Linked DNA regions of Homo sapiens: region 2 is linked to region 1. The links come from fine-mapping of genetic effects on gene expression. A gene starts in region 1. The other region holds a variant in brackets. All regions are shown on one strand. Distances are between the middles of the regions. Region 1 holds the start of NTAQ1 (N-terminal glutamine amidase 1). Region 2 has its middle 40 kb from the start of NTAQ1.

Region 1 (16,172 bases):
ACATATAGCACCCCTGGGAAATGTATATAGTACAGTTGGTCTGGGATTGGTCTTCTCTTGGTGACCAGTTCTATCTTTTCTAATCTTAACTATTCTAGTTAGGAGTGACTTGATTTAGGAAAAAAATAATAATAAGGCAGTAGAGGCTGGGTGTGGTGGCTCACACCTGCAATCCCAGCACTTCGGGAGGCTGAGGCAGGTGGATCATCTGAGGTCAGGAGTTCAAGTCCAGCTGGGCCAACATGGTAAAACCCCATCTCTACTAAAAATACAAAAATTAGCTGGGTGTGGTGGCGGGCGCCTGTAGTCCCAGCACTTTGGGAGGCTGAGGCAGGTGGATCACTTGAGATCAAGAGTTCAACCTGGCCAACATGGCAAAACTCCATCTCTACTAAAAATACAAAAATTAGCTGGGTGTGGTGGCACACGACTGTAATCCCAGCTACTCGGGAGGCTGAGGCAGAAGAATTGCTTGAACCTAGGAGGCGGAGGTTGCAGTGAGCCAAGATTGCGTCACTGCACTCCAGCTTGGGTGACGGAGTGAGACTCCGTCTCAAAAAAAAAAAAAAGAAACGGAGGTTCTTGTTGGTAACCCCTAATTGCTTCAGAAAGACTCAAGTGTTCTTACTTCATGTGCTACAGAAACGAGGCTCAGGTAAGAGCTAATCATGATTCCACTACCTCATTTGGGATGAGGTCATAGGTGGGTCCCTTTCTGTTCTTTGGTAGCAAAATTAGAAAGTAAACATTAATTTGGACTGGGATTTCTTTTAGGAATGTTGCAAATGTGAGCTTACTTAAATTGTATACCAAATCTTATTGATTTCCCACAAAAGAAGAAAAAAAATTAATTGAATGGAGGTGGGGAGACATTTTGACATTTGCCATATATTAGCTATTCTATTCCATGTTTTAACTATATCCCAGATTCCCCTTCTGTCTGGGAGATTTTTCTCTTTGGGTGGGTTTGGTTTAGGCAGGGCCCAGCCTCCTTCTGTGGAAATCCTACAGGGAAATACACTTCATTTCCCTGGAAACCTGGCAATAAGGATTCAGGCATGTGACCTTGGACCAGCCAATGGGCTGCTCCTATCTGAGGCATTTATTTCCTCTGGGAGGAATGACCCAAAGATGCGGGGCAGAGATTATTCATGGTGGCAGAGCAAAGGATACAGAGCCATGGCATTAATGGTGGTCTCCCCTCCCGTCCCCTCCCCTCCCTTTCCTTTCCTTTTTGAGGCAGAGTTTCACTCTTGTCGCCCAGGCTGGAGTGCAATGGCACGTTCTCGGCTCACTGAACCCTCCGCCTCTGGGGTTCAAGCTATTCTCCTGCCTCAGCCTCCCAAGTAGCTGAGATTACAGGCGCCTGCCACCATGCCCGGCTACTTTTTGTATTTTTAGTAGAGACAGGGTTTCACCATGTTGGCCAGGCTGGTCTCAAACTCCTGACCTCAGGTGATTCACTCGCCTCGGCCTCCCAAAGTGTTGGGATTACAGGCGTGAGCCACCGTGCCCGGCCTGGAAGATATATTCTTTTTTTTTTTTTTTGAGACGGAGTCTCGCTCTATCACCCAGGCTGTAGTGCAGTGGCGCCATCTCAGCTCACTGCAACCTCCGCCTCCCAAGTTCAAGCGATTCTCGTGGCTCAGCCTCCTCAGTAGCTGGGACTACAGGCGCGTGCCACCACGCCTAGCTAATTGTTGTATTTTTAGTAGAGACGGGGTTTTGCTGTGTTGGCCAGACTCATCTAACTCCTGACCTCAGGTGATCCACTCGCCTCTGCCCCTCAAAGTGCTGGGGTTACAGGTATGAGCCACGGCCCCGGCTGATATATTCTTATAATGTGGTTTTCAGGCCTTACCTCTCTATTGACCTCTCCCGAACATACATAGTTTAATTTCTCAGTTTTCCCATGTAAGGTATGGTACACAGCAGTGAGTCTAATACCACAAGTATGGACCTGCTTCCCACCCCAATATAATTCAGATGGGTCTCATATTGTGTTTCAACCCAGCCAACTTCCCACCCCCAGTGATAAGGACTCTACCCTCTGAGTTCACATAGTACATTGCTGCCATAGCACAAATTGCTTTGTATTGAAATGATCGCTTTAACTTGGGAAAATAGCATAATGCAAATCAGATAAATGCAAATTAGAATAACAGTGGGAATGTCAGGGTTTTGATTTTGTTTTGCCAATTTGTTTTTCTTTTGAGACAGGGTCTCACTCTGTCACACAGGCTGGAGTGCCGTGGCTGAATCATACCTCACTACAGCTTTGATCGCCTGGGCTCAGGTGATCCTTCTGCCTCAGTCTCCCAAAGTGCTGGGATTACAAGCTTGAGCTACTACACCCATTCTAGTTTTCGTTTTTAAATAATAATCCTTGGCTGGGCACAGGGGCTCGCGTCTGTAATCCCAGCACTTTGGGAGGCTGAGGCAGGTGGATCACCTGGGGTTGGTTTAGTTTTGTACTAAAAATACAAAAATTAGCCGGGTGTCGTGGCACACATCTGTAGTCCCAGCTACTCGGGAGGCTGAGGCAGGAGAACTGCTTGAACCTGGGAGGTGGAGGTTGCAGTGAGCCGAGATTGCACCACTAGACTCCAGCCTGGGTGTGACAAGAGTGAGACTCCATCTCGGAAAAAAAAAAAAAAAAAGCATTAAAAGCACATCCTTCCAATAAAAAAAGCTTTAAAAAAAACCTTTTGTTATTAAAGCTCAATATACTGTGTGCTGTGGATTCCCTGGATCTCCTTTTACATGTCTGTGGCCTTTCTTATAATTTCCTCTGTTATTGATCTCTCTTCTAAACACCTGCCCATTAATATCTTAATTTCACTGGACACAGGTTTCTTTGAGTAGCATTTCGTATTTCTTCCTTAACCAGATCATTGGAGTTTGTAGGTCAGAATCTGGTTCTAACCATCTCCTACTCTTCTGAAACCATATCCGTTTTTATAGTTTCTATTGTAGGATCATATTATTTATTTATTTATTTATTTATTAGCAGAATTTTGCTCTTGTTGCCCAGGCTGGAGTGCAATGGTGTACTCTCAGCTCACGGCAACCTCCACCTCCCAGGTTCAAGCGATTCTCCTGCCTCAGCCTCCCGAGTAGCTGGGATTACGGGCATGCGCCATCACACCTGGCTAATTTTGTATTTTTAGTAGAGACAGGGGTTTCTCCATGTTGGTCAGGCTGGTCTCACACTCCTGACGTCAAGTGATCCACCCGCCTTGGCCTCCCAAAGTGTGGGATTACAGGTGTGAGCCACCATGCCCAGCCTATATGTTTTTTATGATCTATTTTTTTCAATCTAAAAAGTAATTCCTGGGCAACCCCCTTTGGGTCCCCTCCCTTTGCATGGGAGCTCTGTTTTCACTCTATTTCACTCTATTAAATCTTGCTACTGCACTCTTCTGGACCATGCTTGTTACGGCTCAAGCTGAGCTTTCGCTCGCCGTCCACCACTGCTGTTTGCTGCCGTGGCAGACCCGCCACTGACTTCTATCCCTCCAGATCCGGCAGGGTGTCCGCTGTGCTCCTGATCCAGCGAGGCGCCCATTGCCGCTCTGGATCGGGCTAAAGGCTTGCCATTGTTCCTGCATGGCTAAGTGCCCGGGTTCATCCTAATCGAGCTGAACACTAGTCACTGGGTTCCACGGTTCTCTTCCGTGACCCACGGCTTCTAATGGAGCTATAACACTCACCGCATGGCCCAAGATTCCATTCCTTGGAATCCATGAGGCCAAGAACCCCAGGTCAGAGAACAGGAGGCTTGCCACCATCTTGGAAGCGGCTTGCCACCATCTTGGAAACTTTGTGAACAAGGACCCCTGGTAACATTTTGGAGACCCTGAAGGGACCTCCAAAGCGTTTGTCTCTTCCAGAATCAAAGCTGCAAAACTACAAATCATTCTTCAAATGCAGCCCCAGATGCAGTCTATGACTAAGATCTACCGCGGACCCCTGGACTGGCCTGCTAGCCCATGCTCCGATGTTAATGACATCGAAGGCACCCCTCCCCAGGAAATTTCAACTGCACAACCCCTACTACGCCCCAATTCAGCAAGAAGCAGTTAGAGCAGTCGTCGGCGAACCTCCCCAACAGCACTTGGGTTTTCCTGATGAGAGGGCGGACTGAGAGACAGGACTAGCTGGATTTCCTAGGCCGACTAAGAATCCGTAAGCCTAGCTGGGAAGGTGACCGCATCCACCTTTAAACACGGGGCTTGCAACTTAGCTCAAACCCAACCAATCAGAGAGCTCACTAAAATGCTAATTAGGAAAAAATAGGAGGTAAAGAAATAGCCAATCTATTGCCTGAGAGCACAGCGGGAGGGACAAGGATCGGGATATAAACCCAGGCATTTGAGCTGGCAACGGCAACCCCCTTTGGGTCCCCTCCCTTTGTATGGGAGCTCTGTTTTCACTCTATTTCAATCTATTAAATCTTGCAACTGCAAAAATAAATAAATAAATAAACAAATAAAAAGTAATTCCTGCTTATAATAGAAAGTTTAGAAACAGAAAAAAAAAAGCACAATATGGCAGATTAGAAACTGCTGGCTATCTCTCAGTATGCATTCTCCCCTTCTTGCTTGAGACACTCAAATAATACCTGCACTGCTCAGAATAAACTGTATGTTTCCTGATCTCCTTTACACCTGGATGTGATCCTGTGAGCATCTTTTGGTCAGTGGAATGTGAGCAGAGTGATGTGCATAACCTGCAGATTTTGTCCTTGAACCTCCCACTACTCCTTTTCCCTGGTCTTACCAGTCAGAATGCAATCAGCAGGTAGGGTGGCAAGCCATCTTCAGCCACGCGAACTAGGGCATCACTCTAGATATGGCCCCCAATAAGACATCAGGAGCCTGGGTAACAGATATTGCAGAGACACTATATCAGCTCTAGAATGTATATGCTCAGGCTGTGGAATGAGAGATGCATTTGTATCTCATTTAAGTCACTAATATTTTTGGATTTCTTTGTTACAGCAATGTCACCTGTATTTTAATTAATAAAAATATCAATTCAACAAGGATTTATGCCAACTACAATGCTTACACCCTGCTCAGAGCTATGTGATAATAATCATAACTGCAAAATTATGTAGTTTTTTTAAGTTATTTTATTTATTTTTTAAGAGATGAGGGTCTCACTCTGTTGCCCAGGCTGGAGTGCAGTGGCGTAATCACAGTTCACTGCAGCCTCAAACTCCTGGGCTCAAGCAATTCTTTTGCTTCAGCCTCCTGGGTGCCTAGGACTACAGATACCACCATGCCTGGCTAATTAAAAAAAATTTTTTTTTTGTAGAGACAGGGTCTTGCTGTGTTGCTTAGGTTGGTCTCAAACTGACCTCAAGCGATCCTCCCGCCTTGGTCTCCCAAAGTTCTAGGATTACAGGGGTGAGCCACTACACCTGGCCTATGTAGTTGTTTATTACGTAGGGTACTGAGTACTGCAGAACTCTCAGCACAACTTGGTTCCAAATCCCTGCACTAACAGACTTGACCAAACTCTAGCATGGCTTCTAGCAGTATAAGGCTATGTCAGCCTTCTCCCCCAAACCCCCCATTAAAATGCCTGCTTAAGAAAGCTCAAAGCTCCCAGGAAAATTTACTATTTGTTGTTGCCAGTACCTGATGATAGGCCCCTGACCTCCTTTTCTTAGAGCATTTACTAAAAGGGCTTAGAATTGTAAATATGTATTACTTACAACTCAGAAGTCCTTCTCAAGGACTTAGAGAGCCATTCCTTTGAAATGTAATCATCAGGAAGGATAGGGCCTCTGACTCCCAGTCTCTGTGGGAGGATAGAATCCTAACTTAGATAACTGCCAGCTAGCAGACACGACTGGCCTAATGGTATTTACACTGACCAACCCTTTGTAATTTTCACTTCCCTGGCTCTAATGAGCGCCCCCCCCCCCCCAACTCCTCCCTGCTTCCTCATTCTTCTTTCCAAATGCCCAAATTACCTCTGCACAATTGGAATGGAGCTCAGCTCTTTCCCCTACTGTCAATAGTTGCTGAATAAAATCTGTTTTCATCGCTTTGACTGATGGTCAACGGCTATGTTTATTTTTGACAGTACCTATGTTCTGCCAGGCACTATGCTAAGTGTTTTGCAGAGATTAGTTTATTTAATTTTCACTGCAGCACCCATTAGATAAGCACTCTACTATTATTATCCTCATTTTGCAAAGAAACTGACGCTCAGAAATCCTAGTGTTACTTATCCAAGGTCACTCAGGGTAGTAAGTAGCCAAGATAAGATTTGAGTGTGTTTCTGACTACAGCACTATTTATACTATTCTACCTCTCAGGGCAAGACCCATGCCCTGGAAGAGCTCATGGCAGAGGTAGAGACAGATTGAGTTGCTGAGCATGCTACTGCTTTTCAAGACATATGAATAAAAGTTGTGACAAAACAGGAAAAAAAGCTCCAGGAAGATGGAAGCCAACAATAAACTCTTCCTGGGAAAAGCTGCAAATAAGGCATGTGAAAGAATGCATCAGACAGAGTGTACATACATCTTGTGCAAAGGCTTGGGGTATCAAAGGAAGAATAAGACACTCAGTGACAAGAGTATGGCGGCGGGGAGGGTGGCCGAGGCGGGCAGATCACTTGAGGTCAGGAATTTGAGACCAGCCTGGCCAACATGGTGAAACCTCACCTCCACAAGAAAATACACAATTTAGCTGGGGTGGTGGGGGCGGAGGTTGCAGTGAGTCAAGATTGCACCACAGCACTCCAGCCTGGGCGACAGAGTGAGACTCTTATCTCAAAAAAAAAAAAAAAAAAAAAAAAAAAAGTATAGGGTATGCGGGAAATAATGAAATCAGATTTTTTTAACAAAAAATCATAGTTGCTAACATTTATATTATATGCTACCAACTATTCTAAGTACTTTATATACATAAACTCAACTAATCCTCATAATGACCCTATGAGGTAGTAGCATTATCTTTAACTTCATTTTACAGATGAGGAAAGTGAGACACAGAAGAGTGAAGTAACTTTGCCCAAGGTGACCCAACTGGCAAGTTGTAGAACCTACCCAGCCTAGCTTCAAAGTCCTATAGTAAGTAGTTTGTGCCCAATCAGGATAAGAAACTACACAGTAGGTCAAGCAAGGGAAGTTAAATGTAAAGAACTATTAATTATGTTAGCTGCGCACGGTGGTGCGTGCCTGCAGTCTCAGCTACTCAGGAGGCTGAGGCTGGAGGATCACTTGAGCCCAGGAGTTTGAGGCTGTAGTGAGCTATGATTGCACCACTGCACTCCAGCCTGGGTGACAGAGGGAGACCCTGTCCCCCACCAAAAAATTATTATTAACTATGATAAAGGCATAACGATAACACATAAGGAAACTCTATTCAGTACCTTACCGTATAGAAGGTAGGGTTAGGGAGGACCCTGGTTTTTGTGTCAAGAGGCTGAAGAAAGGTTATTGCCAGGCTAAACCTGCAAGGTTAGGAAGGGACCATGTTCTGAGTCTGGGGCTGGGGCAGACTCCACAAGGATGTTCTCACCACTACACCTGTCCCACTCACTTTAAATGGAGCATTTAGACCATTTACATTCAATGTTAGGATTGACTTGTGAGGTACCATTCCATTCATCGTGCTTTGTTGCCTGTGTACCTTGTTTTTTTTTGTTGTTTTTTAAATTGTATTTTTGTTGTATAGGTCCTGTGTGATTTATGCTTTAACGAGGTTCTGTTTTGATGTGTTTCCAGGATTTGTTTCAAGATTTAGAACTCCTTTTAGCAGTTCCTGTAGTGGTGGCTTGGTAGTGGCAAATTCTCTCACCATTTGTCTGAAAAAGACTGTATCTTTCCTTAATATATGATGCTTAGTTTCGCTGGATACAAAATTATTGGCTGATAATTGTTTTGTTTGAGGAGGCTAAAGATAGGGCCCCAATCCCTTCTAGCTTATAGGGTTTCCCACTCACTTTAAAGGAGAAATGTTTACCAGAGTTGTTATATAGCATAGAGGCTATGTGGAAGTTTGTATTAGGAGCTGAGAGGCAATAAAATTGGTAATTGACACAGGAACTGTGCTCCAAGTCTTTAGGATTTATCAGCTTTGAGACTGAAGAGATTGGAGAATCCAACTGTGGATGGCTAAAATCAATGTAAACATCTCAGTTTTTATAATGGGAAGTACCCTGATTAGCTAGCTATGCTCATTGCAAATATAAACAATTCAGAAGACTGTAAAGTGTAAAGACCTTGAAACTGAAAGTCCCTGATATTAATATCATTCATTCACCAGAGATAAACACTATTTTTTTTTTTTGAGACGGAGTCTCACCCTGTTGCCCAGGCTGGAGTGCAATGGCACCATCTCGGCTCACTGCAACCTCCGCCTCCCGGGTTCAGGCGATTCTCTTGCCTCAGCCTCCCGAGTATCTGGGATTACAGGCGCGCGCCTCCACGCCCAACTAATTTTTGTATTTTTAGTAGAGACGGAGTTTCACCATGTTGGCCAGGCTCGTCTCGAACCCCTGACCTCGTGATCCACCCGCCTCGGTCTCCCAAAGTGCTGGGATTACAGGCGTGAGCCACCGCACCCGGCCCTAAACACTATTTTAACAATATGGTGTCTTTTCTTCCAGACTGCCAGTAATTGAACAAAATATATGATTAACACAAAAAGGATACCATATGGACTCTTTAAACTTTTTTTTTTCAAATTTACTGTATCAGGGAATTAATATATCTTTTCGAGCCAATAGCTACAGGCCTTCCAATTTAAAAGATTAAGTTACAATAGAGTGAGATTTGGGGTGCTATCCCTTTCGGAAAGCGTCCTCGATGCGGTCATATTGGAATTAACCTCCACTCCCCTCTTCTCTGGGCTCCCGCAGACTCCAGGCTGAGTGCAGAAGCGTGGATTTTCACACCCAAACCTCTGTTATTTCAGTGTCTCACCTGGCTTCTCCACAGCGCAGAAGCTCAGCCCCTGGTTGGAAGAGCCTCCCCGCGGAGATTCACAGCAAAGCGCCATTCAGGGCCCAACTCCAAGCCCAAACCTAGCTCCTCCCCAAGCCGCCGCCAGAGACCCCTCTTCTCCCAAAGCTCACCGGGGCCCCGCCCCTGACTCCGCCCACCAGAGCCCGGTCCTCCAGTCCCGCCCCATCCCGGGCCCCACCCACCAGCCGGGCTCCGCCTACCCGGAAGCGCGCTGTCCTCCTCGTCCCGGGCTCCGCCCACCGGGAGTTCGCGCCACTCACCCCACCCCGGACCCGCCCACTTCGCTTGGGCTCCACCCTCCCAGGAACTGGCGCCGCTTGCCCCGAGCTCCGCCTACTTCGTCCCGGGCTTCCCGCGCCGGGAACTCGTGCTGCTAGTCCCGCCCTGGCCCCGCCCACCGCGCTACTGGCCCCACCACCCGGAAACTGCCCCGGCCCTCTCCCCCCGGGCTCCGCCCACCCCACGCCGGGAACCCACGCGGGCCACTACAAGCCCGCCCTTTCCTACGTCTGGTCCAGTCGGTCTTCCTCCGGCCCGGGCCCTGGCCCAGCTAGCCGGCCATGGAAGGTAATGGCCCCGCTGCTGTCCACTACCAGCCGGCCAGCCCCCCGCGGGACGCCTGCGTCTACAGCAGCTGCTACTGGTGAGGGGGCGCGGGCGCAGCCTCTGGGTCTCCCAGGCTCCCGGGCGGCGAGTCGCAACCGGGCCCCGCCTCTTCCCGGCCCCTCCTCGGGGGCGCTCCCGGCCTCTACCGGCGGGTTCTACAGTTTTGCGGGAGGAGGGAGCGGGAATGGCAGCTCTCGTCTCTTGAGTAGAGCGTGGGCTATTGGATGGGGTTGGGAATTCGTCCGGAATCATAGGGTCGATAGTGCATTACCTGTGCCTGGCGCTTGTCGGTTGGATTTGCTCAGCAGATCTCTGCTTCGGGGCCAGGAAGGGTGGAGCTCTGAAAATCTTTGGGGGTTACTCTGCTGAAGCCTGTGGGGTTTCAGACTGAGGTGAAGGTCATTTTAATTTTGTAAGAGAATGAAGGCACGGAGAGTTTTTCATACAGCACTTGCTATATGCCACGCGTTGTTCTGGGTGGTTTAGGTAAACTAAATCACTGAGCATCACAATAACCGTAAGAGGTAGGTATTGTTATCCCCAGTTGAAAGATGAGAGCACTGAAGCACAGAGGGCTGCAAGTAATTTGCGCAGGGCCACGTAGCTTGTGAATGAAGGAGTGGGGATTTACAGTCAGGGTCTGGCCCCGGAATCCACGCAGTGCACCCCTGTCCTAGGCCACCTCTGCAGCTGAAGTACCGCCCTTGCCTTAGTCCTCATACCTACTCTTTCCTGAGTAATGGCTTCTTCCCCAGCTTCTAGTCCTTGTACAGGAAACCTCAGTGCTATCTAAACCTACTCCTCCCCCTTCTGCTGGTCACTAAACCAATGCCACCAAGAGCTTAACATTTGTTCGGCCCTGATTGCATGTCAGGCTCAGTGGCAGGTGCTTCCATCGATGTCCAGGAGGTACCTTCTTTTATTATCGTTATCCTCATTTTACTAATAAAAAGACTGAGCCACAGAGAGGCTGTTCTGTGCCCCCAAATCACACATCTAGCAAGTGGTGGTGCTGAAACTGGAACCTCTTCGTGATTCTGAAGTTCATGCATCTTAACTACTGCACTATTTTTCTGTCCTGCCTCTCTTCTAAATCCCGTTAGTTCTCCTCCCTAATGTCCAGTCATTGTTTTATTCATTCATTCAATAAATGTTTATTAGGCACTTGGAGTATGTGGCATACTTCTGGGCACTGGGGATATAGCAGTGAACAAAATCGACAAATTCCCTCATGGATCCCTTGGTTCTTTCATTTTGAGAGAAAAGCAGATAAGGCCCGGTGCGATGGCTCACGCCTGTAATTCCAGCACTTTGGGAGGCCGAGGTGGGCGGATCTCTTGAGGCCAGGAGTCTGAGACCAGCCTGGCCGACATGCAGAAACCCTGCCTCTACTAAAAATACAAAAATTAGCCAGGTGTGGTGGCGTGCACCTGTAATCCCAGCTACTCGGGAAGCTGAGGCAGGAAAATCGCTTGAACCTGGGAGGTGGAGGTTCCAGTGAGCTGATGCCACTGCCCCTTCCTGCCTGGGCAACAGAGCAAGACTCCATCTCAAAAAAAAAAAAAAAATAAAAAGCCAAAAAAACAAGTAAACCATGTTTGGGTGATGTTAAATACTATGAGAAAAATAAGATAAAGGATGGTGACTTATCTTCTATTAGGATATTTTGAGAAGACATTGTTGATAAGGTGATATTTGAAAAGAGATCTGAAAAAAGAGGGTGGGAGCTTTGCAACTATTGGAGGATGGTTGTTTAAGCAGGGAGAACAGCAGGTACAAAGGCTCTGAGAAGGAATGGTGCTGTGAGTGTGATAGGAACAGTGAGGAGGCTGGTACAACTGGAGTATTGGAGTTAGAGCAGTCTTGTAGAAGAATGGTAAGAGATGACCACTCTACCACAGAGTTTCTCCATCTTGGCTTGAGTGACATTTTGAGCATGATAATTCCTTGCTATGGAGGCTGTCCTGTGTATTGCAGGACGTGTAGCAGCATCCCTGGCTTCTACCCACTAGATACTGTTAGCACCCTAGCCCTAGTTATGACAACCAAAAATGTCTCCAGACATTGCTAAGTGTCCTGTAGGGGTTGGGGGGCAAAATCGCCTCTTGCTGAGAACCAGTGCTCTACCCTGTCTGAACACATCAGGTGGGGACACCACACTACTTTGGCTCCTGCAGCTTTGGGGGTTTTTTTTTTTTTTTTTTTTTTTTTTTTTTTTTTTGAGACAGAGTCTCAGTCTGTTGCCCAGGCTGGAGTGCAATGATGCCATCTTGGCTCACTGCAGCCTCCACCTCCCAGGCTCAAGCCATTCTTCTGCCTCAGCCTCCTGAGTAGCTGGGACTACAGGCACCCACCACCATGCCCAGCTAATTTTCGTATTTTTAGTAGAGACGGGGTTTCACCACATTGGCTGGGCTGGTCTTGAACTCCTGACCTCAGGTGATCCACCTGCCTCAGCCTCCCAAAATTCTGGGATTACAGGTGTGAGTCACCGTGCCCGGCCATCCTGCAGGTTTTTTAAGTTGAAATGAATGCCTCCTGTCTACTTCTGTTAGCTTCCGTCATGTTAGCTTCCAGATGTTACTTACGCTTCAAGACCCTGCTTAATGATAATAGTGGCAGCCAGTATTTGTTTGGGACTGTGTCGTCAGCAGAGCATTTCTGATTCTGACTTAATTGTTTTGTGTTTTTCAAACAATTGTGGAGTGCCTGCTTTGTGCCAGGGGTCCTCCCCATCTGCATGCATCTCTGACCTCAGCTCATCACTGGGAACCCCTGGAGTGTCCCAACCTTTCTGCTGCCAAGATGATCAGCTGACAGCTTGGGGCAAATCCACAGCCCTCCCTCCCTCCCTCCCTCCCTTCCTTCCTTCCTTTCTTCCCTCCCTCCCTCCCTCCTTCCTTCATTCCTTTCTTCCCTCCCTCCCTCTCTCCCTTTTTTGAGTCCCTTATGCTTTTGTTTAGAGTTTAAAGAACATTTCAGATATTATCCAATCACATATTTTGTTTGAGTTTTTTTCCCTTCCAACTTTTATTTTAGATTTGGGGTTACATGTGCAGGTTTGTTACATGGGTAAAGTGTATGTGTTGGGGGTTTGGTGTACAAATTATTTTGTCACCCAGATAGTGAGCATACTACCAGATAGATAGTTTTGATCCTCACCCTCCTGTCACCCTCTACCCTCAAGTAGGCCCCATGTCTACTGTTTCCTTTTTTGTGTCCATGTGTACTCAAGGTTTAGCTCCCACTTATACGCAAGAATATTCAGTGTTTGCTTTTCTGTCCCTGTGTTAATTCACTTGGGATATTGGCCTCCAGCTCCATCCATGTTGCTGCAAATGACATGATTTTTGTTCTTTGTCATTGCTGTGTAGTATTCCATGGTGGATGATATATACCACATTTTCTTGATCCAGTTCACCATTGATAGGTGCCTAGGTTGATTCTACATCTTTGCTATCATGAATAGTGCTGTGATGAACATATATGTGCATGTGTCTTAATAGTAGGATTTATATTCCTTTGGGTATATACACAGTAATGGGATTGCTAGGTCGCATCATAGTTCTGTTTCAAGTTCTTTGAAAAATCTCCAAACTGCTTTCCACAGTGGCTTAACTAATTTACATTCCCACCAGGAGTGTATAAGCATCCCCTTTTCTCCACCAACTTGCCAGCGTCTGTTATTTTTTGCCTTTTTTTTTTTTTTTTTTTGAGACAGGGTCTCACTCTGTCACCTAGGCTTACAGTGCAGTGGCATGATCATGACTCACTGCAACCTCAACTTCCTGGGCTTAAGTGATCCTCTCACCTCAGCTTCCTAAGTAGCTGGGAGTACAGGTGGGCATCACCACTTTTTTGACTTCTTAAATTATTTTTATTTGTTTATTTTTATTTATTTATTTATTTATTTAAGACGGATTCTTACTCTGTCACCAGGCTGGAGTGCAGTGGTGCAATCTAGGCTCGCTGCAACCTCCGCCTCCTGGGTTCAAGCGGTTCTGCTTCAGCCTCCTAAGTAGCTGGGACTACAGGCATGCACCACCATGCCCAGCTAATTTGTGTATTTTTAGTAGAGACGGGGTTTCACCATGTTGGCCAAGATTATCTTGATCTCTTGACCTCTTGGTCTGCCTGCCTCGGCCTCCCAAAGTGCTGGGATTATAGGCATGAGCTGCCGTACCCGGCCTATTTATTCATTTTTTTGAGACAGAATCTCACTCTGTCACCCAGGCTGGAGTGCAGTGGTGCAATCATGGCTCACTGCAGCCTCGACCTGGTGTCAATCAATTCTCCCACTTCAGTCTCCCGAGTAACTGGGGCTACAGGTGTGCACCACCATGCCCAGCTAATTTTTATATTTTTTGTAGTGTGGGGTTGTGCCATGTTGCCCAGGCTGGTCTTGAACTTTTGGGCTCAAGCAGTCTTCCTGCCTTGGCCTCCCGAACTGTTGGGATTACAGATGTGAGCTACTGCACCTGGCCTGACTTTAAGAATAGTCATTCTGACTGGAGTGAGATGGTATCTCATTGTGGTTTTGATTTGCGTTTCTCTAATGATTAGTGTTGTTGAGCATTTCTTCATATGCTTATTGGCCATGTGCATGTCTCTTTTTCCTTTTTTTTTTTTTTGAGATGGAGTCTTACTCTGTTGCCCAGGGTGGAGTGCAGTGGCTCGATCTCGGCTCACTGCAACCTCTGCCTCCCAGGTTCAAGTGATGCTCCCAGCTGAGCCTCCAGAGTAGCTGGGATTACAGGTGTGCACCACCATGCCCAGCTAAGTTTTGTATTTTTCTTTTCTTTTTTTTTTTTGAGACGGAGTCTTGCTCTGTTGCTCAGGCTGGAGTGCAGTGGCGTGATCTTGGCTCACTGCAAGCTCCGTCTCCTGGGTTCACACCATTCTCCTGCCTCAGCCTCCCGAGTAGCTGGGGCTGCAGGTGTCCACCACCACACCCGGCTAATTTTTTGTATTTTTTTTTAGTAGAGACAGGGTTTCACCGTGGTCTGGATCTCCTGACCTCGTGATCCGCCTGCCTCGGCCTCCCAAAGTGCTGGGATTACAGGCGTGAGCCACCGCGCCCAGCCTAAGTTTTGTATTTTTAATAGAGACAATGTTTCACCATGTTGGCCAGGCTGGTCTTGAACTCCTGACCTCAAGTGATCCACGCGCCTTGGCCTCCCAAAGTGCTGAGATTATAGATGTGAGCCACTGTGCCTATCTGCTTTTGAGAAGAAGTATCTGTTCATGTCCTTGGCCTATTTTTTAATGGGGTTGTTTTTTGCTTGTTTATTTAAGTTCCTTATAGATTCTGGATATTAGACTTTATCAGATGCATAGTTTGCAAATATTTTCTTGCATTCTGTAGGTAGTCTGTTTTTTGTTTTGGGTTTTTTTTTTTGAGACAGGGTCTCACTCTGTCACCCAGGCTGGAGTGCAGTGGCACAATTATAGCTCATTGCAGACTTGACCTCCCAGGCTCAAGTAATCCTCTCACGTCAGCCTCCCAAGCAACTGAAATTAGAGATGTGTGCCAGCATGCCTGGTTAATTTTTTTTACTTTTTGTGGAGACAGGGTCTCTCTATGTTGCCCAGGCTCATCTTGAACTCTTGGGCTCAAGTGATCTTCCTGCCTGGGTTTCCCAAAGTGCTGGGATTACAAGCACGAGCCTCACCATGCCTGGCTGTAGGTTGTCTATTTACTCCATTGATAGTTTTTTTTTTTTTTTTTGCTGTGCAGAGCTCTTTAGTTTAATTAGGTCTCACTTGTCAATTTTTGTTTTTGTTGCCGTTGCTTTTGGAGTCTTCATCATGAAATCTTTGCCAGGGCCTATGTCTGGAGTGGTATTTCCTAGGTTTTCTTCTAGGGTTTTATAGTTTTAGGTATTACATTTAAGTCTTTAATCCATCTTGAGTTGATTTTTGTATATGGTGAAAGGGAGGGGTCAAGTTTCAATCTTCTGCATATGGTTAGCCAGCTATCCCAGCATCATTTATTAAATAGGGAATCCTTTCCCCATTGCTTGTTATTGGACTTTGTTGAAGATCAGATGGTTGTAAATGTAAATATGCGGCTTTATTTCTGGGTTCTCTAACCTGTTCCATTGGTCCGTGTGTCTGTTTTTGTACCAGTACCATGCTGTTTTGGTTACTATAGCCTTCTAGTATAATTTGAAGTTGGGTAGTGTGACGCCTACAGCTTTGTTCTTTTTGCTTAGGATTGTTTTGGCTGTTTGGGCTCTTTTTTGGTGCATATGAGTTTTAGAATAGTTTCTTCTAATTCTTCCACAACTCGCTTGCTCTTCCTTCCTTTCCCTCCCTCCCTTCCTTCCTTCCCTCTCTCCCTCCTTCCCTCCCTCCTTCCCTCCTTTCTTTCTGTCTCTCTCTTTCCTTCCTTCTCTTCTTTTGTTTTCTCTTCTCTTCTTTTTTCTTTCTTTGTCTTTCTTTTCCTTCCTTTCCCTCCTTTCCTTCCTTTCCCTCCTTTTCCTCCCTTTCCCTCCTTTTCCTTCCTTTCCCTCCTTTTCCTTCTCTTCTGTTTCTCTTTTTCTTTCTTTCTTTCTTTTTCTTTCCGGAGGGT
Region 2 (16,172 bases), 41 kb after region 1:
TTACTGCCCTTCCCAGAATGTTCACAAACCCTGAACACAGACGTCTATCCAGTCCTGTTGTTTTGCATGAGGTTCAGGAGCCTTGTGGGAAAGAAGCCAAATGGTCTGTGTTCTCATTTAGGGTTCAGACGTTTATAGGCTTGTCCCGTGGGCTAGAGGTCCTCAAAGATGTCTTTGCTAGAGGAGAGAAAAACATGAACAGGTCCCTGAGAGAAAATCAATGTAAGTGAAGATGACATCTGGCTGAGAGGACCAGACTAGATGATTATACATTAGAGTGTTCCTTGATGGCAGGTGCCATGAGAGATGTGCCACGGTGCACCCTTACCTGTACTCTCTTACTCTCTTGAAAGCCCTGTCTCCTGGGAAGGAAAGAAAGAACTGTGTCACTGGGGGCCCCATGTGGCTCTGTGGGAGCCTTGGAGGTAGCTGCTGATTTTCCGTAGAACAGTGGACAGCAGTGTTCTGACTGAGTCTGGTATTTTGGTGGTTGACAGCAGTACACACCATGACCAGTGGCTGGCTCAGTAGTGAAGCAGAAGCATGAGGAAGCCTGCAGGCTGTGGTTTGGATTCTCTTTGAGTCCCTTTTTCATCAGGATTTGAAAGAGAAAATGATTTACACAGGACTCTCAGACTGGTAGGGGCTTGTGTACATTCAGCATATAGCAATTAACAGCTTGATGATTTGCAGAAATTCTTCATGGAGGATGCTTATTTAAAAGAGCTGGAGGGCTGCGTGTGGTGGCTCATGCCTATAATCCCAGCACTTTGGGAGGCTGAAGTGGGCAGATCACTTGAGGCCAGGAGTTCAAGACCTCTACTGTTGCTGTATCACTGCCCTGGTGATTCAGCAGTGAGTCCTGCGCTCATGGATATTACATTCTTGTGGAGAAGACAGACAATGAACTTCTACAATGTGTGGAAGATTGGTTGCTATTTACTGAGTTGGGGAAGATTGTGGGTGGAGTAATTTTGGGGAGGAAGATCAGGAGTTTTACTGGGGGCATGTTAAATTTGAGGTGCCAGTTGGATGTCTAACAGGAGCTGTCAAATAGGAGTTGGTAGCCGGGTGTGGTAGGCGGAGGTTGTAGTGAGCCTGAGATCACATCACTGCACTCCAGCCTGGGCGACAGAGTGAGACTCTGGCTCGCTGCTTTCTCTCTCTCTCTCTCTCTCTCTCTCTCTCTCTATCTCTCCATATGTATATATGTGTGTGTATATATATATGTGTGTGTGTGTGTGTGTGCATATATATATATATATATATATATGCTGGATAAAGGGGTCCCAGAGTCAAGTGGAGAGATGTAGGATAGGAATATCAAATTGGGAGACATCTGTTAATAGATGACATTTAAAGATACAGGCCTCTATGATATCATTGAGAGAATGTGTGTGGATAGAGGAAAGGTCCAGGGACCTAGCCTAGGGAGCTTTTATTTAGGGCTTAGGAGATGGGAAGACAGATGGAATGGTCATGGAGGAAGGAGGAGAAAACAAGGATGCCCAAAGGAGAAAGTGGTATTAGAAGGGGAGAGGGATCAGCTCTGTCAGATGTTGCTGATCAGTTGAGTAAGTTGAGGACTGGGATGACCGTTGGTTTTGGCACTGTGGAGGTCTGTGGGCAATTTCAGTGGAGTGATGGGGATGACAGCCTAATTTCAGTAGGTTCAGGAGGGAACAGGAGGAAGGAAGTAGAGTGGTTTGGGAAGGGGGCAGAGAAAGGGGGTGGTACTGCAGGAGGATGTGGGTCAGCAGGGGAGACTGCTGTTTGCCAGGTTGTCAGCTGATTCTTCCATTTTGAAGAACGAATTACCCATTTCTGCCCCTCCAAGGAGACCTCTCATGACATCAAAACCTGTCTGTCCTCCAGGGCCACTGTCTCTGAAGCAGGGCAAACACTCCTCAGTTCTCACTCTGTAGGACGCTCCCTTTGACTCGATCCATCCCTTGGTTCATGCAGCCCTTCTTCAGCATTGACAGAGAGGAAAGAAAGCTGGATAACTTTCAGGGATATTTCATCCAGGTCATGGGGAAGCCTCAGGCACCACTCCAATAACTCTTTGCTTTTTTTCCTTGACCTCTTCCCACTTTGCAGTGTTTTCTTCACAAAGCAGCCAAAGTGATCTTTATTTTTTCTTTCTGCTTCATGTCTCCTTCATACAGAGTGATCTGTTAAAAACCAGACTATCTCATTCCCGTTTTCAAACAACAACAAACCACCACCACTTTGCAATGGCCTCAGCATGTCCTTAAGCTAAATATACTGTTCTACCCTGGCTCTCAGGCCCTGTGTGGTCTGGATTACGGCTGTCTCTGTGATTTCAGCTCTGCTACTGCTGGCCCATTCCCTGTCCTGCTTCCCCCGTTAGGTTTCTTTTGGTGAGCAGGACAAGCTCATTCCTTCCTCAGGGACCTCACATTCTGTTTACCCTGATCTGACCCTTTTTTTCTCCCTTATCTTCTGTTGGCTGACACTGCCTGACATTGAGGTCTGAGCTCCGAGTCTGGTAATTCTTCCCTGGTGACGTATCTAGAGCTGACTGCCCCAGTCAACATGACAGTACCCTTTTTTCTTCATAGCAGTTATCACTAACTGAAATGATCTTGCACACTTATTTGTTTAAAAGTCTGTTTTCCTTTTTTTTAAATTAAGATGGAGTCTCACTCGGTCACCCAGGCTGGGGTGCAGTGGCGTGATCTTGACTAACTGCAGCCTCCGCCTCCTGGATTCAAGGGATTCTCCTGCCTCAGCCTCCCAAGTAGCTGGGATTATAGGCATGTGCCACCACACCTGGCTAATTTTTGTATTTTTATTAGAGACAGAGTTTCATCATGTTGGCCAGTCTGGTCTCGAACTCTTGACTTCAATTGGTCCGCCCACTTCAGCCTCCCAAAATGCTGGGATTACAGGCACGAGCCACCACACCTGGTCTAAAAGTCTGTTTTCTATCTCCCTCCATTGGACTGTGAGTCCTCCCTGCCTTATTCTCCACTGTAATACAGTGTCTTGGTATCTGATACCTTATAGTAAGCACTCAACAAATATTCCTCAAGCATTCAATAAAGGAACAACTCCTGTCACCAAAGGGGTCTGGAACATCAAGTCCGCCACTCCACTGGATCTCAGGATAATGCTAGAAAACTGCTGCTAAAGTCTTGTGCTTTGAATTATTCCCGTTGACTAGATTCTATTCCTTTTTTAGATGATCTTGTCCTTTTTCAAACCGGTTTTGTCTGCAGTCCCTTCAGCCTTAACTCCAAGCCCTACTCTTCCACCTTTTGGTGTGAAAAGCACGTTATGAATGACTTTTGCAGAGAGCAAAGAACACCATGGATTTATTTAATTAGTTCTCTCACATTCTTGGCAGGCACCTCATTCCAGCCTCTTGTCACAAACGCAGATATGGAAAGCACCATGTCTAGTGTCTGATATTGAGAGCAGGAGCTCACAGTATACTTTTCCCCTTTGCTCCAAGCTGACCACTCAGCCTAGCACCAGAGAATGAACTATGTCTTTTACCCTGGCAGTCCAGGGAGAATGTGGCTTTGGCCCTGAGCTTTACAGCAGGTATCTGTTCAGGCCAGGCTTTTAATAACATCCATTTATTGGTCAGGCACAGTGGCTCACACCTGTAATCCTAGCACTTTGGGAGGCCAACGCCGGTGGATCACTTAAGGTCAGGAGTTCAAGACCAGCCTGGCCAACATGATGAAACCCTGTCTCTACTAAAAATATGAAAATTAGCTGGGCATGATGGCAGATGCCTGTAATCCCAGCTACTTGGGAGGCTGAGGCAGGAGGATCTCTTGAACCCAGGAGGCAGAGGTTGCAGTGAGCTAAGATCGAGCCATTGCACTCCAGCCTGGGTGACAGCAAGACTCGGTCTCCACACACAAAAATAAAATTTTAAAAGGCTGGGCACGGTGGCTCATGCCTGTAATCCCAACACTTTGGGAGGCCTAGGCGGGCGGATCACCTGAGGTCAGGCATTTGAGACCAGCCCGACCAACATGGAGAAACCCCGTCTTTACTAAAAATACAAAAAAAAAAATAGCCAGGCATAGTGGCGCATGCCTGTAATCCCAGCTACTCGGGAGGCTGAGGCAGGAGAATTGCTTGAACCCGGGAGGTGGAGATCGCACCATTGCACTCCAGCCTGGGCAACCAGAGCGAAACTCCCTCTCAAAAAAAACAAAACAAAACAAAACAAAAAACAAAATTGCATCCATTTATTATCAAGGGAGCACTCATAGCAGAACTTCACTTAGAGTCAATAGGCAATCTCTCCTGAGGTTTCCATGGGGACCTGGAGTTTTAGAGCAATTTCTGGGAAGAACATTGGAAGGAAATTGTGGGGCAAGATGTTAATACAGTCACACCGTTCTGGCACACGCTGTTTCTGCAGCCGTAAGTGACGGTTGAATCAGTTCCCACTCAAGGCCCACAGGATGCAGAGCTATGTTTGACCTCCTTGGGGCCAGATGCTGAGGAGATCTTGTCCCTGCCCCTGGAATACAGGAAAAATAAGTTCAAGTCCTTGGCCCCCGTTACAGTTTTGCATTTGCTAGTGACATACTGTGTGACCTTGGGAAAGTCACTTAACCTCTCTGGGCCTTCCTTGCCTCACCTAAGAATTATTTTGAGGCTCAAATGAGATTGTGTGTGTGTTGGCAGGGAAGAGAATATTTCATACACCGAAAGGTGAAGTGTTTTGTTGCTTTTTTTTTTTTTCTTTTTTGGAACAGAGTTTTGCTCTTGTCACCTAGGCTGGAGTGCAGTGGCACGATCTCAGCTCACTGCAACCTCTGCCTCTCAGGTTCAAGTGATTTTCCTGCCTCAGCCTCCTGAGTAGCTGGGACTATAGACACCTGCCACCATGCCTGGCTAATTTTATATTTTTAGTAGAGACGGGTTCACCATGTTGGCCAGGCTGCTCTCGAATTCCTGACCTCAGGTGATCTGCCTGCTTTGGCCTCCCAAAGTGCTGGGATTACAGGTGTGAGTCATCGTGCCTGGCCCCAGATAGCTCATCTAAGCTCTTCATGTGTATGAACTCAATCCTCAAAACAACAATATAAGGTAGATACCATTATTCTCCTCATGTTACAAATTAGGAAACGTAGGCACAGTAAAGTAAAGTGACTTATAGAAAGCCACATAGCTAGTGAGTGGTGGAGACAGGATTTGAATCTAGGCATTCCCACTCCAGGGCCTGGCTGCCATCCAATTCCCAGTTCACCCAGTTCCAAGTTCATGCCCACATTCTGTAATCAGATAATGGGTCACTAGCAAGGTGCTGTCTGTTGTAGGGCAGGAGTGGGTCACTGAGCTTCCCCATGGTCGGGATGAAGTGTCCTTCACAGCTGTCCACCTGAAGTAACTTACCCTGTAGTTACTGCAAATAAACTTTATCAATAAATGTCAAACTTGTTAAAAAGGCAAATGTCCAGAACCTCCCTGAGTGGTTCTGGTTTAGTAAGCATCCCAGTCAGGTCTCAGCGGCAGAGAACAGAAATTGCTTGCTACGTGAATCCAAAAGGCATTTGATTCAAAGTGATGGAGACGGGAAACAAACATCTAGAGAAACAGTCATTCATAGTGAAGTTCTGCTATAATTGCTCCCTTGATAATAAATGGATGCAATTTTGTTTTTTGTTTTGTTTTGTTTTGTTTTTTTTGAGAGGGAGTTTCACTGTGGTTGCCCAGGCTGGAGTGCAATGGTGCGATCTCAGCTCACCACAACTCCACCTCCCAGGTTCAAGCAATTCTCCTGCCCCAGCCTCCCGAGTAGCTGGGATTACAGGCATGCGCCACTATGCCTGGCTAATTTTTTTGTATTTTTAGTAAAGACGGGGTTTCTCCATGTTGGTCGGGCTGGTCTCAAACGCCTGACCTCAGGTGTAGCAGTCGGAGATGCACTCACTTCTAGCCTTGGTGCCCAGACCTGTGAACTCTGGCAGTACTGTCACTGGTTCAGAGCATCTACTACATCTTATGGGACAGAACCCCAGTGTCACCAGGTGGTGTCTGCCAGCGGATACTGTAGCTCAGTCTCCAATGGGCCATTCATTCTACCATCAAGAAGATCACCTACCCCTGGGGACCACGGTAAGATCAGAGCATCTGGGGGGTACCAGCATATGGACCCATTTCTTTTGCTGTGAATGGATTTGTGATCAGAAGCAATGTGGGTGTCTGGCGTTGTGGCAGTGGATGAGGCATTCATTGAGTTGGTAAGTTGCTGGCAGAAGCATGGTGATTAGGAAAAGGAAATCCATGTGTGGAAGAAGTGTTTATTCAAGGGAGGGGAAAAGTCACCTGTCTTCCATTTTGTTTTCAATTAGCAATAATCACGCCTCGGATAAACCTCATTGGCTATGATACTGCCACACGCAAAGCTCTGTCTTCCCTTTTGGAAGGGATGCCTCATAATTAAGATGCCATAGCTCAGCCTTGGTCTCCACTTAGGGCTTCAGCAGAGAAGGCAGCTGAGTCAGCTCTGGTGAGGGAAAGATGGTGATTGAGTCCATGCACACCTCCGTCCCTGCCGCCATGGCTGCTTGGTTCGTGGGCCTACAGTATAAACATGGGCACTGTCGGTGACTTGCACAGAGGAGTCAGTCCACATCCTGGTTCTTTAGTGCTGTTTCCAGCGAGGACCTGTAGTGAGCAACCACTTGTGTTACCAATATCCTCAAACCCCATGCCCAGAAATTTTTTTTTTTTTTTTTTTTTTTGAGACGGAGTCTCCCACTCTCGCCTGGCTGGAGTGCAGTGGTGCAATCTTGGCTCATTACAACCGTCGCCTCCTGGGTTCAAGCGATTCTCTGCCTCAGCTTCCTGAGTAGCTGAGACTACAGGCGTGTGCCACCACGCCTGGCTAATTTTTGTAATTTTAGTAGAAACAGCGTTTCACCATGTTGCCCAGGCTGGTCTGGAACCCCTGAGCTCAGGCAATCCACCCTCCTTGGCCTCCTAAAGTGCTGAGATTACAGGCATGAGCCACCGCGCCCAGCCGAAATCAGCATTTTAATAGCCAGACTCACTCCCACTTCCCCACCCGGAAGTCTACTGCAGGTGTTCTGGGACCATGTATCATGAAATATGGATTTAGGTATATTGCTAATTTTAAGTGTAATTAGGCTGTTTTTAGTAAGTGGGTAAACTTTAGCACCTTTCCAAAGTGGTGGCTGGTGTGGCTAATTACAGAAAGTGGCAAGAGAGGTCAGGAACTGTATCTCAGCCCATTCATGTTTGGTTGTAAAATGTGCTAATACTCTTGATTTAGGCATCTGGTCAGGTGGGGGAATATTGACTTTCTCCAATCTCTGGATTTTAAGAGCATCTTTTTAGGTCTGATCCTTATGACAGGGCTCAAGTTAGTGGCCCTCCCCAAAAAGGGTGATATTTAGGTTCTTGCATCTCCAATGCCAAACCCCAGTGGTCATGACATTGCATTGCAGAGGTTCCTATAATCTGACGGTTGTTGTATTTCTGGATAAACCCTTTGTTAATGATCATCC[A/G]GCTTGTTCCTTATGCTTTTGAATATTGAGAGAACTTATATATTGCAAGGATTTTTGTTGTTGTTGTTATTTTGAGACAGAGTCTTGCTCTGTCGCTCAGGCTGGTGTGCACGATCTTGGCTCACTGCAGCCTCCGCCTCTGCAGGGATTTTTGTTTCGAAACTTGGAACCCAAGATGCACATCTTAAATATCTAAGGCAGCAGGCATTTTAAAGTAAACAAAGTCAAAAAAGTGTGGCTGAACTTGATTCTGTAATTACCTCATTGCGGGAACTAATAATTCCTGTCAGTTCTGAGCAATATTAATCCTTACAGGAATTACACCAGAATAAAGTATATGTTTGGGCACTTCCCCAAGTATCGAAGGCACCGTCAGGAGTTGTTTTACATGATTGCCTCAGGGGAAACAAGAGATAGTTATGCTTTATATATTTTTAACAAGAACTGTCACTTAAATGAGATCCTTTTGCTTTCCTGTCTTCTGTCACTTAAATGATTTTTACACCTGTTAGACTTCTAGGCATCTTGGAAACTTTCAGAAACAAACGAATCAATTTTTTTCAATTTCTGTGGAGGACAATCCAGATATTTATCTATAGAAATGACCTGTGACCATCCCCTTTGACTTAGGAATTCGTCATCTAGGAATTTATCTTACAGATATATACTGCACGCATATAAAATGGTGGATACACGAGGAAACTCATTGTAGCTGTGGGCATAACAACAGGAAGTTGGAAACCATCTGTAGGCTTATCAACTGGGGGCTGATGAAATGTTTATGTTTCTTAAGCTGAGTGATGGCTTAAAATTTTTTAAAAAATCTATCTATACATATAGATATATATATTTTTGAGACAGAGTCTCCCTCTGTCACCTAGGCTGGAGTACAGTGGCACAATCTCGGCTCACCGCAACCTCTGCCTCCCTGGTTCAAGCAATTCTCCTGCCTCAGCCTACCAAGTAGCTGGGATTACAACTGTGAACCACCATGCCCAGCTAATTTTTGTATTTTTAGTAGAGACGGGGTTTCCCCATGTTGACGAGGCTGGTCTGAAACTCCTGACTTCAAGTGATCCGCCTGCCTCGGCCTCCCAAAGTGCTAGGATTACAGGCATAAGCCACTGCACCCAGCCAAAATTAAAAAAAAAATCTTAAACATGATATAAATATTCTTTTGTATGTATTAGTTGGTGCAAAAGTAATTGCAGTTTTTGCCTTTACTTTCAAATTAAACCTATATTAAATATGTAATAAACCTATATTATATATGTAATACAATTAAATTTAAAGAGCAAGTGGAAATCTGTACTAAAAGATAAAAACGTGTATTTGCTTATATTTGTACAGAATATCTATAGGAATATCCAGTATCCAGTACCAAATTGGTAATATTGGTTGCTTCTGAGAAGAGAACTGGGTGGCTAGGGTCACGGGAGGGAGGGAAACTTCATTGTGTACCCTTTTGTGTTTTTAAGTGTTGTAAGCCCTGTGAATATATTACTTATTAAGGGTAGAATTGACTGGGCGCAGTGGCTCACGCCTGTAATCCCAGCACTTTGGGAGGCCGAGGCGGATGGATCACCTGAGGTCAGGAGTTCAAGACCAGCCTGACCAATATGGTGAAACTGCATCTCTGCTAAAAACACAAAATTTAGCTGGGCGTGGTGTCATGTGCCTGTAGTCACAGCTACTCGGGAGGCTGAGACAGGAAAATCGCTTGAACCCGGGAGGTGGAGGTTGCAGTGAGCCAAGATCATGCCACTGCACTCCAACGTGGGCTACAGAGCAAGACTCTGTCTCAAAAAAAAAAAAAAAAAAGATTTAAAATAAAAAAAAAAAACAAATAAATCACACTTCCCCTCACTGTTTTTTTTTTTTTTTTTGTAGAGACAAGGTCTTGCTATGTTGCCCAGGCTGGTCTGGAACTCCTGGACTCAAGCAATCCTCCCACCTTGGCCTCCCAAAGTGCTGGGACTACAGGCATGAGCCACTGTGCCTGGCTAACTTTTTTTTTTTTTTCAAACAAACACAACTTGAAACAAGTATAGCCTCAGATGTTCTCTCTGATCAAAGTTTCATTGACCAAGAGCAAGAAAAGCCAAAAGAAATTATTTTTCTGTTATACCGCTCCGAGCCTGTTTGTTTACCAATTCTAACCCTTTGATTGGGCTGCTGTGAGTGAAAGTGAGACCTTGAAATTGTGAGTCTAGGTGAAACCATTAAACAGCTAAGTAGCTGTCTGTGTGCTGGTCAGGGGTGTGTTTCTGTGGCATATATGGCATTAAGCTGCGATCTGGGTACAGAAATGCTCAGAAAGCCCATGAGCTCATGCGAAGAGAGAAAACCTTTTTAGCAGATGTGTGAGACAGGAAAAATAGTTGGTACTTTCTTTCTTTTTTTTTTTTTGAATCGGAGTCTCGTTCTGTTGCCCAGGCTGGAGTGCAACGGCGCGATCTCGGCTCACTGCAAGCTCCGCCTCCTGGGTCACACCATTCTCCTGCCTCAGCCTCCCGAGTAGCTGGGACTACAGGCGCCCGCCAGCACGCCCGGCTAATTTTTTGTATTTTTAGTAGAGATGGGGTTTCACCGTGATAGCTAGGATGGTCTCGATCTCCTGACCTCGTGATCCACCCGCCTCGGCCTCCCAAAGTGCTGGGATTACACGCGTGAGCCACCTCTATTAAAAATACAAAAAAATTAACTGGGCATGGTGGCATGCCTGCAGTCCCAGTTACTCCGGAGGCTGAGGCAAAAGAATTGCTTGAACCCAGGGGGCGGAGGTTGCAGTGAGCCGAGATCGTGCCACTGCACTCCAGCCTGGCAACAGAGTGAGACTCCGTCTCAAATAAATAAAATAAAATGAAAAAATTAGCCAGATGTGGTGGTGTGTGCCTGTAGTCTCAGCTACTCAGGAGGTGGGAGGATCTGTTTGAGCCCAGGACGTCGAGGCTGCAGTGAGCCGTGATTATGCCACTGCACTCCAGCCTAGGTGACAGAGTGAGATCCTGTCTCAAAAAAAAAAAAAGATGTAGATGAACAGCCAGATGAAGAGATCAGGTGTGGAAGGGTCCTGAGTGCAGGAGCTTCTGTCCCCATGGAGTTGGGGTGCACCACCCTCCCAGCACATGGACGTGTTCTGCTATCCGGAAGCTCTCTGAACCCCATAGTTCAGTACTTCGGCTTCATCAGGTAGGCATGATGGAAGATTAATTCAGTCTCTAGCCCTTCCCCATCTCTAAAGAATGGAGGATGGGGCTGAAAGCTCCAAGCTTCTAATCATTGCTTAGTCTTTCCAGTGAGCAGCCCCTGTCCAGGAGCTCACCAAGAGTCCCCTTATTAGAAAAAAAGATGTTCCTCAGAAAAATTCCAAGGGATTCAGGAACTCTAAGTCAGGTGTTCCTATTACTCAGGAAATCAAAGGTTTAAGAGCTCTGTCTCAGGTACCTGGGGCAGAGACCCAATAATTCCAACAAAAGTTTCTCCTAGAACCCCTATTGCTCAGGAAATCACAAGGGTTTTCGAAGCTCTGTGCCAGGAACTTGGGGTGGAGACCAATATACATCATTCTTTTTTTTTTTTTTTTTTTTGAGATGGAGTTTCACTCATTGCCCAGGCTGGAGTGCAATGGCACGATCTCAGCTCACCGCAACCTCCGCCTCCTGGTTCAAGCGATTCTCCTGCCTCAGCCTCCCAAGTAGCTGGGATTACAGGAATGCGCCACCATGCCTGGGTAATTTTGTATTTTTAGTGGAGACGGGGTTTCTCCATGTTGATCAGTCTGGTCTCGAACTCCCAACCTCAGGTAATCCGCCTGCCTCGGCCCCCCAAAGGGCTGGGATTACAGGCATGAGCCACTGCGCCCAGCCCAATGTACGTGATTTTTATTTCACAGCAGATATCTCTTGATTTCTTTAAAAAAAAAATCTTAAATAGTACCTTGAGAGAACCCCTAATGACAGATAATATGTATGGAGTACTCATTTTGTGCCAGGCACTGCTCAAAACTACTTATTGGGCATGAAATTATTAGTCCTTACAATAACCTTATGAAGTAGGAATGATTATTATCCTTATTTTTCAGATGAAGAAATGGGAGTGGGCAACTTGCCCAAAGTAGCACAGTTAATATGTAAAGGAATGTGATTTGAACCTGGGCCTGACTCCAGAATCACTACACCATAAAGTGGAGATTCAGTCACACTGGAATAAATCCAAAGGCAAAATGAGGGCATTGCTTCTTGTGCTGGTCTTGGGTCTAAGGAGGGGCATATTGCAGAGGTGAGAGCCAAGGGGAAAAGATGGAGTGGGCTGTCTGTGGCACACGGGATGTCTTTACTACTGGACAGCCTTGAACCACAAGATGTGATGTAGGGCTGAATCTTGTAGGAAAAAAGCGGTCAGGGTAAGCTCTTCAACATCAGATGTGAGAAGACCAGCGTTTTGCAGTGTCCTTTGGCTGTGGTGGACAGGTTTGGGCTGGCAGAAGGGTCAGTGGAGACCAGCTGGGGGAGACCTGCATGCAGTGGCAGGGGGTTGGGAGTGAAATGAGGGAAGAATGGACTTGGTAGGTTTGGTTTGACGACGTAGTGGAGTTTGTATTGGCTGAACGTTGCAAAGGAAGCAAGGAGAGAATAATAACATGCGCCAGCATCCAGAGATGAGTTGAGGAGGCGTGCCGTCTGACTTCTACATTCAGGCACATTTCACACTTCTGTCAGGTACTCTGCTCTGAGCTTTTGGAATCTTTCTTTCATGTATTCCTCCGTACAGTGTTTGCAGGTGGTGTATGGATGCTGTCAATCCCTGCTTTCCATAGGCACCCTCCTTACTATTCCTTGCCTAAGTGACCTAACACACTTGGTCCTGGCTTGGGCAGGCGGGAAGCATGGAGTTAATACATTCTGGAGCAGCCTTCAGCCCTGATGGGTGGGAGTAGGTGGATAAGTGGCTTAGCTTTCTTGCTCCTTGGAGGGTACAACTCTGGGCTAGACGCTGCACCATCTCCCAGGGTCCCCAGCAGCCTTGGTCCCCAGCTGCCCACAACAGCCTATCCTCTTGGCACCTGCTCAGTGACCTGGCTGGCTTCCTTGTTCCTTGACTCACGTCCCCACTCCCTACTGGTGTTTCCTAGGATCACCTACCAAATAAACAACTTCTACCGAATTTCCTGTCTCAAGGCATGCATTGGGGAAACTCAACCCAATGCAGTTTCCAGATGATAATATCTACACCCCGAGAGGTTATTTCACTTGCTCAAGCTCACATATCCAGTATGTAACAAATCTAGGACTTTAGCCCAGCTTTCCTTAGCCCCAGCCTGGTGTTGTCTTCTGCTCTACCATGCTTAGTATCTGCTATAATGACACCCTAGGTCCTTTCACATGTTGGGCTTTCCTGCAGGAGTCTGGCCTATTAGACCATAAACTCATAAAAAGCAGAACTATGACCTTGATAACTTTGTATATTCAAGAACAGCAGGAACTGTGTCTTTCAGCGAGTAGATGCTTAATAAGGATTTATTGAAAGGAAAGGAGATAGAGCAAGAGGAAGTATGTGAGGGGAAGAGGAGATGGGAGCATGAAATTGGGGCAGAGGAGAGAGACTCTTGTGCTCCTTCTTGACATGGGGCACAAGAGTGACTTGCTTTGGAGGAGGCTATGGCTAGAGTGTCACAGGCAAAAGCCCAGGAGGCCCACGGGTGAGCAGAAAATTACAGAACTTAAAAAATCATTTTTCTTGGAAATAATGTGTGAGACAGGGAAATCTAGTGAAAAAATATTTTTCAGTGCATGTATCCCTAAAAGGGAGGTTTTCTTTTTAAAAATTTTTTTTAAGACAGTCTCGCTGTGTCACCCAGGCTGGAGTGCAGTGGCGTGATCTCAGCTCACTACAACCTCCTCCTCCCAGGTTCAAGCGATTCTCATGCCTTAGCCTCCCGAGTAGCTGGGACTACAGGTGCATGCCACCACGCCTGGCTAATTTTTTTGTATTTTTAGTATAGAAAGGGTTTCATCATGCTCTCCAGGTTGGTCTTGAACTCCTGACCTCTTGTGATCTGCCTGCCTCAGCTTCCCAAAGTGTTGGGATTACAGGCATGAGCCACCGTGCTGGGCCTGTGTTTTGTTTTTAATATGAGATTAGTTATTATAACTTTGTAGAAAGAACATTGGGTGGATTTTCTCAGCAGAGTTAAGTCTACAACTCAGATACTCTAGGGCAGTAGTTTTTGAAGTACACAAGGCACTAGGACTTCTAAGGCACTCTCTTAGAAGCCTCCTCAAAAAGAAGGAGATGATAATAATTGATTACTACTTATTGAATTCTAATTAGACCATGTGCCAAGCCCCATGCTAAGTCTTGGTCTGTGTTATCTCATTTAATCCTCTTTGATATGAGTCCTGTTATCATTCCCACTTCACAGATTACGAAGCGGACACTCAAAGAGGTCCCCCAGCTAGTAAGTGGCCAAAGTGGGATTCATTTGACTGTTTGACTCCAGAGCTCATGCATTCATGGGCATGGCTACAGGTACCCTTCTCTTCACTCCTTCCCCAAGCATGCCCCCAATTCACCAGAATTGAAACTCAAGATTTTGACACCATAGAGAGCAAACTGGGGAACAGGAACTACACTGTTGGTTAGGACTTGGGAGAAGATAAATTAAAAAGTCTGACACTTTGATCACGTTCTGTAAAAGTCTTGGGGCTTTGCTTTCCCACTGTGAAGGGCATTTTGAAATACATCTTAATGAATGCATTCTGCTCTCTTGGTACACCAGGGGGAGCATTTAGTACAGGAATGGGAATACGGTGGCTCCAGGAAGTGACTATTCCTGCTCTTTGTAGGGAAGAACACTTTTTCTTTCTCTCTTTCTCACTGAAAAACACATTTTTCTGTTTGAACAGTTTGAAAGCAAGTTGCAGATATCATGAGACTTCACCTATAAATACTTCAGAAGGATTTCCTAAGAAAGATATTCTTCTGCTTTATGATGATATTATTATCACGTCTAAGAAACTTAACATTGATGCAACAATGATGTCTAATATGTGGTCTGTATTCAAACTTCTCCAGATATCCCCAAGATGTTCTTTATTGCTTTTTTTGGTTTCAATCCAAAATAAATTTTGTGTTCTCTTAATATTAGATCACAGTTATTCTTCTGGAATATTTTGCTGTGAAATGCTTATACTTTTTACCGTCTATTGAATAACTCATAAAGTTGATTTGCCATGCTTTATTAAGTTTCTCTTTGATTGATATTGTTTATTCCTATTATAAGTATACCATGATGTTAAGTGGGACTTCCCATTTCTCAGTTTTGACTCAGGCACCAATTAAATAGATATCAGAATCCAAAGTGAGTGTGAGATTGACGTGGTATACAGAATTCATCAAGTGTCACAGGTTAGGTTCCTCGTAAAAGGCTCTTGATGGACATTTGTATGGAGGCAGTTTATTGGGGGAGTGTTTGGGGCTCAGCAGCTAAGGGGGAAGAAAGGAAGCAGGATGAGACACAGGGAGGTGTTGAACTGTGATGCAATCCCTACTCAGCCAATCCCCAGAGACCTCTAGAGCTGGGATGGTGATATTTGGTTGTGTCCCCACCCAAATCTCATCTTGAATTGTAGCTGCCATAATTCCTACTTGTCGTGGGAGGGACCTGGTGGGAGGTAATTGAATCATGGGGGCATGTCTTTCCTGTGCTGTTCTCATGATAGTGAATACATCTCACGAGATCTGATGGTTTTATAAAGGGGACTCCCCCGCACATGCTGTCTTGCCTGCCGCCATGTTAAGACGTGACTTTGCTTTTCCTTCACCTTCCACCATGATTGTGAGGCCTCCCTAGCCATGTGGAACTGTGAATCCATTAAACCTCTTTCCTTTATAAATTATCCTGTCTCAGGTATGTGTTTATTAGCAGTGTGAGAACAGACTAATAGAGATGGTCTTGCAGAGTTGTTCCCTTCTGGAGCAAGGAGGCTGGGTCTTTATACCCCTAAAGGGACCAGTCAATGGATGCAGGTTGCCCCTGGGACAGAGATGTGATCACGGTAACTCCCTTCAGCTTAGAGCAATTTTCAGAGAGACTTGGAATAGAAATGAGGGCCTGAAGGGGATATTTGGGCAGGGACCACAGCATCCATAACAGCAGGGAAATGCTCGTGAACATGTTGCCTAACCCTGGATGCCCTCAGACTGAATACACGAGAGGTCAGAGTGGCAGCGGCATGAGGAGGAGGAAGGGTAGAGAGACGCCACTGGAGAGAGCATTGCCAGGCTGTGCCTCCACTCTCCCTCCCCAGGGGTAAGGGCCAGGAGTGCTACCACCTTCACCTCAAGGGTACGATGGGGGCTCTGATAGGACCACATATTTAACTTACATATTTCCTATGGTTGAGAAATATGTAACTGGCTAGAGTGGCCTGTGGCAGCAGGACACAGAGGGCTGGGTTTGGTCCTGTGTTCCCAGGGTTTGTTGGGGCAAGAGATGAGAGAGTGTTTCCTGGGACTTAAATGTGGGCCCTTGGCTGGGCACTGTGGCTCACGCCTGTAATCTCAGCACTTTGGGAGGCGGATCACTTGAGGTCAGGAGTTCGAGACCAGCCTGGCCAACATAGTGAAACCCTGTCTCTA

What was found. PIP is the estimated chance that this variant, and not a neighbour inherited with it, causes the effect.
Region 2: its variant is the best candidate, but not a certain one, in a credible set for the expression of NTAQ1 in whole blood (INTERVAL, PIP 0.72).

The regions. Positions count from the first base shown.
Region 1 is chr8:123,407,298-123,423,469 of GRCh38, forward strand. NTAQ1 (N-terminal glutamine amidase 1) reads left to right here and starts at 9,477. Exons shown (of 6, transcript NM_018024.3): 1 at 9,477-9,635. The coding sequence starts at 9,553. It also overlaps a transcript of ATAD2 not described here. RefSeq lists enhancers at 3,023-3,523, 3,524-4,024, 9,649-10,243 and silencers at 6,938-7,138, 9,056-9,535, 9,646-9,845, 10,166-10,215.
Region 2 is chr8:123,448,702-123,464,873 of GRCh38, forward strand. It overlaps a transcript of NTAQ1 not described here and the pseudogene LOC124902105. Among named protein-coding and RNA genes, the nearest start is that of NTAQ1, 40 kb to the left of the region's middle. The variant A/G (reference allele first, on the strand shown) is at 7,530.